Linked DNA regions of Homo sapiens. The protein of the gene in region 1 purifies or fractionates together with the protein of each later gene. This does not show direct contact. Each region holds a gene or a part of one and is shown in the gene's direction. Other genes may lie near its edges. The genes, in order: HCLS1 and MAP4K1.

Region 1 (3,823 bases):
TTATTTTCAAATCTGTCACAGACTGATACTTTTGTAAAATAAAATACAATTAAGTTTCTGGAAAAATAAATGGTTAAAAATAACATAGACAATACAAACACAGTTTTTATTTTTAAATTCAACAGATATAAAATCACGATGTTGTCAGGCATGCTAGTCTGTGCCTATAGACCCAACTACTCAGGAGGCTGAGGCAGGAGGATCACTTGAGTCCAGTAGTTCTGGGCTATAGTGCTCTATGCTGATTGGGTCTCCACGCTGAATTCTGAATCAATATAGTGACCTCCCACCTCCCAGGAGCAGGGGACCATAGGTTGCCTAAGAAGGGGTGAACTTGCCCAGGTCAGAAATGGAGCAGGTCAAAACTCCAGTGCTGATCAGTAGTGGGATTGTGTCTGTGAGTAGCCACTGTACTCCAGCCTGGGCAACAGTGAGACCCCATTTCTAAAAAAGAAAAAGAAAAAGAATAAAATCACTATGTCAAATTGCTATAAAAGTTTCTAAACACATATTCTCAATTTTTATTCTTATTTCCCTGTGAAACAGAAACAGTTCAGCTTGTGGACCACACACTGAGTGGCACTGCTCTGGAATAATCTTTCAGCACTTCCTGGAACCAGTCTGGCCTTTAGATTAAATCTTTACTGAGCTATAACCATAGGATGTCTGCCTCAGTGGCCCTGTCCTCTTCTCGTGCCCTGACATTTTATAGCAAGTGGAAATAAAGAATGGTGTAATGCCAAGAGTATAGAAATAGAATTCTGGAGCTCTAGGGACTGATTCCAGCTCTGCTGTAAAAAGGCTTATGATGCTGAGGAGAGTAATAATATTTTACCATCCTATCTTGATTTCCAGCGCTGACTGGAGATTATAGTACCATCCCTGTTTACCTCACAGGGGTACTGGGAAGAGCCATGGCTATAACTTAAGAATAATGACTAACATTTATTAAGCTATTATATGTCTTGCAAAACACAGAGTACTTTTTAAAAACAATCCTATATCATAGATGACGTTGGCATCCTGATTTCACAGAAAAGTGAATGGATATATTAATGTTTAGCAATTTGTCCGAGGATACAGAGATACAGGTTGAGCATCCCTAATCCAAAAATTCAAAATCTAAAATGTTCCAAAATCTGAAATTTTTGAAAGCCCACATGATACCACAAGTAGAAAATTCCACACCTGACTACATGTGATGGGTCTCAGTCAAAATACAGGTGCACAACAGTTTTTTCAGCGTCCCCAAGGGAAAAATAAAGTTACCTTCATTTATTTAGTTCTTCTTTAATACCTTCCTTAATATAGTGTATATGACACATAAATGAATTTCCTGTTTACACATGGGTCTCGTCCCCAAGATATCTCATTATGTATATGCAAATATTCCAAAACCTGAAAAAATCCTGAATCCAAAACACTTCTGGTCCCAAGCGTTTGGGATGAGGGATAGTCAACCTGTAGTAATTTGAATTCGGCTCAGTCTGACTCCATGGGCTGAAATCTTAACCAATATATTGTTTTTGTCTAATAAACATAATATCGTCATGTCCGTAATTCTTTTGTTGAAATGAAATGCAAATTCCCATGAACTAAGCTATTGCCAATTCCCTAAGGCTGCTTGCTATTCTGTTTACAGTGACAAAGTACTTGATAAGTTGGCCTTAATAATACTACAATCACTTCATAAACAAACCTCTTTATGAGTGCCCAAAGTCTCTTTCATTTAAGGTTTTCTTCACTTTATTATTTTTCAAAAATTAACTTTGTTTTTTTTGAGACGGAGTTTCGCTCTGTCATCCAGGCTGGAGTGCAGTGGTACGATCTCGGCTCACTGAAACCTCCGCCTCTGCCTCCCAGCTTCAAGTGATTCTCCTACCTCAGCTTCCCGAGTAGCTGGGATTACAGGCATGTGCCACCTTGCCCAGCTAATTTGTGTATTTTTAGTAGAGACGGGGTTTAACCATGTTGGCCAGACTGGTCTTGAACTCCTGACCTCAAGTGATCCGCCTGCCTCGGCCTCCTACAGTGCTGGGATTACAGGTGTAAGCCACCATTGCCCAGGCAAAAATTAAATTTATTGATACCTAATCATTATAAGCAAATAGTTCAATGAGTTTTGACTATATATATATAATATAACCACCAATGCAATCAAGATATAGAATATATCTATTACCATGAAAATTTCCCTGCACCTCTTTGCAGTCAATACACCCCATACTGATCTTTTTGTCACTATAGATTAGTTTTGTCTGGCATAGAATTTCATGCAAACAGAATAATATAGAATGTATTGTTTTGTGTTGTCTTCTTTCAGCATAATGTTTTCCAGATTTATCCATGGTGTTGTGTATATAAGTCTTTTGTTCTTTTATATTGTCATGTAGTGTCCCATTGTATGGATATGTCACAGTTTTATTATTCATTATCCTGTCAATAGCCATTTGGATTATTGACAATTTGGATCTATTACAAATGAAACTGTCATGGGCATTTGGGTACAAATCTTTTTGTTGACATATCCTTATTTCTCTTGGAAAATTGCCAGGAGTAGAATTGCTGAGTCATATAATAAGTGTATGTTAAACATTTTGAGAGACTCTCAAACTCTTTTCCAAAGGGAATTTACCCTCTTTCATTCCTACCAGTAATGTGTGGGTTTCAGATGCTCCACATTTTTGTCAACATTTGTTATTGTTAGTATTTTTAAATTTAGCTGGGTGCAGTGGCTCATGCCTGTAATCCCAGCACTTTAGGAGGCCAAGGCAGGAGGATGACTTGAGCCCAGGAGTTCAAGACCATCTGGACAATGTGGAGAGATTCAGAGTCTACAAAAAAATTAAAAATTGGCTGGCTGTGGTCTGAGCTATTCAGGAGGCTGAGGCAGGAGAAGCACTTGAGCCCAGGGGGTTGAGGCTGCAGTGAGCCATGTTTGCCCCACTGCACTCCAGCCTGGGTGACAGACTGAGATCCTCTCTAAAAGACAAACAAAACAAAACAACAACAACAACAACAAAACCAACTTAACCACTCTTTTAAGTTAATTTGAATTTCTCTGATGACCAGTTTTATTGAGTATATTTTCATTTGCCATTCATATATCTTCATATATCTTCTTTATGAAGTATCTGTTCACATCTTTTTCTCACTTTTAAAGTGAGTTGTTTGTCTTTTTATTAAGTTGCTGAAAGTTCTTTATATATTCTGGATGTAAGTCTTTTGTGAAATATGTGTTTTACAAGTGTATTCTCCCAGAACATAACTTGCTTTTTCACTTTATTGATTGATTGATTGATTATTTATTGATTGATTGCTCTGTTGCCCAGGCTGGAGTGCAGTGACATGATCTCAGCTCACTGCAACCTCTGCCTCCTGGGTTCAAGCGATTCTGCTGCTTCAGCCTCCTGAGTAGCTGGGACTCAGGCGCCCACCACCAAGCCCAGCTAATTTTTGTATTTTTGGTAGAGACGGGGTTTCACCATAGTGGCTAGGCTGGTCTTGAGCTCCTGACCTTGTGATCCACCCGCCTTGACCTCCCAAAGTGCTGAGATTACAGGCGTGAGCCACCACACCTGGCCACTTTTTCATTTTATTAATGGCATCTTTTTAAGAGCAAAAGATCTTAATCCTGATGATGTCTAATTTATTGAAAAAAAATTTATGGGGCTAATGCTTTATGTGTCTAAGAAATATTTACCTACCCCAAAGTTGTGAAGACTTTCTTTGATGTTTTGTCCTAAAGGACTGACAGTTTTAGCTTTTACATTTAAGTCTATGACCCATTTCAAGTAGACTTTTCTGTGCAGTGTGAGGTCAA
Region 2 (3,730 bases), on another chromosome or scaffold:
TCTAATTCATACCCCTACTCAATTTCACCAGTTGGCCAGGTGTGGTGGCTCACGCCTGTCATCCCAGCACTTTGGGAGGCTGAAGTGGGCAGATTACCTGAGGTCAGGAGTTGGAGATGGGCCTGGCCAACATGGAGAAACCCCACCTCTAGTAAAAATACAAAAATTAGCTGGGTGTGGTGGCACGTGCCTGTAATCCCAGCTGGGAGGCTGAGGCAGGAGAATCACTTGAATCGGAGAGGTGGAGGTTGCAGTGAGCCGAGATTACGCCACTGCACTCCAGCCTGGGTGACAGAGCGAGACTCTGTCTCAGAAAACAACAACAACAACAACAAAAAATTTCACCCGTTGTCCTAGTGACGCCCGTGATTATATATATATATATATATATATATATATATATATATATATATTTTTTTTTTTTTTTTTTTTTTCTGGTCCAAGATCATAGGTGGCACTTAGGAGCCATGTTTCTTTATAATTAAGCCGGAAAAAATAATTAAAACTTCTTTTGTCTTAAAGGAGCTTTGACCTTTTTAAAAATTAAAGGAAATTTGTTTTCTAAAATGTCCCTTAACTGTGTTTGAGGTTTCCACGTTCTGAATTTTGGGCAGGAATACTGCAGAAAGATGTCTTTCTCAGTGCATCATTTCAGGAAGTACACAATGCTAGTTTGTCCCATTACTGGTGATATTAACTTCGGTCATTTGGTTAAGGTAGAATCAGCCAGTTCTCTCCACTGTGAAGTTGCTTTTTTCTCCCTTTTTCTTTTTTTTTAAAGATAGATTCTCTCTCTGTCACCCTGGCTGGAGTGCAGTGACGCGATCATGGCTCACTGCAGCCTCGACCTCCTGGGTTCAATCAGTCCTCCCACCTCAACCTCCCGGGTAGCTGGGATGACAGGCGCGTACCACTACACCTGGCTTATTTTCGTATTTTTTGTACAGACAGGGTTTCGCCATGTTACTTAGCCTGGTCTGGAACTCCTGGACTCAAGAGATTCACCTGTGTAGGCTTCCCAAAGTGCTGGGCTTATAGGCAGGGGTCACCGCACCCAGCCTCTGTTTTTCTTTGTAATAAGAAGTATCCCACCGGTCGGGCGCGGTGGCTCACGCCTGTAATCCCAGCACTTTGGGAGGCCGAGGCAGGTGGATCACCTGAGGTCGGGAGTTTGAGACCAGCCTGACCAATGTGGAGAAACCCTGTCTCTACTAAAAATACAAAATTAGCCGGGCATGGTGTTGCATGCCTGTAATCCCAGCTACTCGGGAGGCTGAGGCAGGAGAAGCGCTTGAACCCGGGAGGCGGAGGTTGCAGTGAGCCGAGATCGCGCCATTGCACTCCAGCCTGGGCAACAAGAGTGAACTCTGTCTCAAAAAAAAAAAAAGAAGTATCTTTTGGGGAGATTCACTGAGACGAGGTAAATAGTCTGTAAATACGTTGTTTCTCATCAGATTTTCACCCACTAGTTTTATTGTTTTTTGTTTGTCTTTTGTTGTTGTTTTGAGTCAGAGTCTCACTCTGTCCCCCAGGCTGGAGTGCAGTGGCACGATCTCGCCTCACTGCAACCTCCTCCTCCCAGGTTCAAGCAATTCTCCTGCCTCAGCCTCCCGAGTAGCTGGGATTACAGGTTTGAGCCAACGCACCTGGCCTGCCCACTAGTTTTAGAATCAATTGATTTTTCCCTGAATCTATTATTGTTAGGTGGCTACTAACAATAAATGGTGATTTTCTGATTCTATGTTTCCTTCTGCGTGTGTTAGTTGGCATTCTACTCTAAAGAAGAGCTGTGTCTTCTCCATTCTTCTTTCTTTATACCAGCATGGTCTCATGGATTTTTATTCTGTGGGTTATAGTCTATTACTGTCATTATTTATTTATTTATTTATGAGATGGAGTCTCGCTCTGTCACCCAGGCTGGAGTGCAGTGGTGTGATCTCAGCTCACTGCAACCTCTGCCTCCCAGGTTCAATCGATCCTCCTGCCTCAGCCTCCCGAATAGCTGGGATTACAGGCGTGCACCACCATGCCTGGATAAATTTTTTTTTTTTTTTTTGAGACAGAGGCTCGCTCTGTCGCCCAGGCTGGAGTGCACTGGCGCTATCTCGGCTCACTGCAAGCTCTGGCTCCCAGGTTCACGCCATTCTCCTGCCTCAGCCTCCCGAGTAGCTGGGACTATAGTGCCTGCCACCACACCTGGCTAATTTTTTTTTGTATTTTTAGTAGAGATGGGGTTTCACCGTGTTAGCCAGGATGGACCTGGATAATTTTTGTAGTTTTAGTAGAGATGGGATTCACCATATTGGCCAGGCTGGTCTTGAACTCCTGACCTCAAGTGATCTGCCCCCCTTGGCCTCCCAAAGTGCTGGGATTACAAGCATGAGCCACCATGCCCGGCCTTGTCATTATTTATTTTGAGGCACAAATGGTCTTAAATTTAGCCAGTGGGAACCACTTTAAGTAGCCCCTGTGTCCTTTTGACATGCCAGAAGGGTCACTTTAAATCCAAATCTGATCGTGTCACTGTCTCCCTGCTTAAAATCCTCCCATGGCCTCAAGATAAAGACTCAATCCTGGCCACAGCCCACAAGGCCATGACATCTCCAGCCAAGTCCCAGCCTTTCTCCCACCTCAAATCCTTTGCACAGGCTGTTCTCCCCAGCCAGAACACTCTTCCTTGCCCTTTCACCAAGTTCCCTCCTAACCCCCCTTCAGGCTGCACCATCCATTCTCTGGGGAGTCTGGGCTGACCTCCTGGGTTAGGTTTCCCTGCCAGACATGCCATGCTTTTTTGCACTCATGTAATTCACTGATTCATGTTGATCTCCTTCTCTAGAATGCAAGCTTCCTAAGGGCAGGGACCGTGTCTGCCCATTCACTGCTATAGTTCAGCATGGGGCTGGCACAGTCTCTATTAACTACTTTGTGAATTAATGAATCAATGAACATATGAATGAATAAATGAACTGACTTATCTCTTCCTTCCACAGGCCTGTAGTGGTGGAGACACGCCCAGTGGATGATCCTACTGCTCCCAGCAACCTCTACATCCAGGAATGAGTCCCTAGGGGGGTGTCAGGAACTAGTCCTTGCACCCCCTCCCCCATAGACACACTAGTGGTCATGGCATGTCCTCATCTCCCAATAAACATGACTTTAGCCTCTGCTGTCATCTTGTTTTTCTTGGGGGAAACAATTCCTGGATGTCCACTCCTCCAAAATTTCAGCAGGCCAACACAGTGATGCTGGGGGGCGTAGCACAGATTTATTTTCCAGTACTAGGTCACCTCTCCCCCAGCTGCCTTAGGGGGAGGGGCTTGGGGACTAAGGGGCTTGCTGTGAGAATAAGGCACTTGAGGTGGGGGTGGAGGGCCAGCTGGGGGTGTGTCAGCTAAGCTGGTCCTCATACTGCTTACGGAAACAATCACCAGCTGGGAAGAAATCCCAACATCTCTCTTGGTACATCTTCCAGACATAAGACTCCTAGGATTGGGGATAGAAAGAGTTCATTGGTCACATCTTCAAACCCTTGAGACATATATATATATATATTTTTAGACAGGGTGTTGCTCTGTTGCCCAGGCTGGAGTGCAGTGGCGACAATCACAGCTCACTACAGCCTCCTGGCTCAAGCGATTCTCCACCTCAGTCTCCAGAGTAGCTGGGACTACAGGTGCACACCACCACCCCTGGCTAATTTTTTAATAGAGAAAGGGTCTCGCTGTGTTCC

What was found.
Region 2: the proteins of HCLS1 (region 1) and MAP4K1 purify together in Homo sapiens (affinity purification with western blotting, with the first as the bait; one study listed by BioGRID). This does not show direct contact.

The regions. Positions count from the first base shown.
Region 1 is NC_000003.12:121,650,617-121,654,439, reverse strand, and holds part of HCLS1 (hematopoietic lineage cell-specific protein), read left to right. Parts: intron 1-3,823. UniProt on the Homo sapiens protein: Substrate of the antigen receptor-coupled tyrosine kinase. Plays a role in antigen receptor signaling for both clonal expansion and deletion in lymphoid cells. May also be involved in the regulation of gene expression.
Region 2 is NC_000019.10:38,587,078-38,590,807, reverse strand, and holds the end of MAP4K1 (mitogen-activated protein kinase kinase kinase kinase 1), read left to right. Parts: intron 1-1,532; coding exon of another isoform or gene 1,533-1,630; intron 1,631-2,990; coding exon 2,991-3,060; 3' UTR 3,061-3,167; downstream 3,168-3,730. Other genes in the region: RYR1 (ryanodine receptor 1), read right to left, coding at 3,388-3,483. UniProt on the Homo sapiens protein: Serine/threonine-protein kinase, which plays a role in the response to environmental stress. Appears to act upstream of the JUN N-terminal pathway.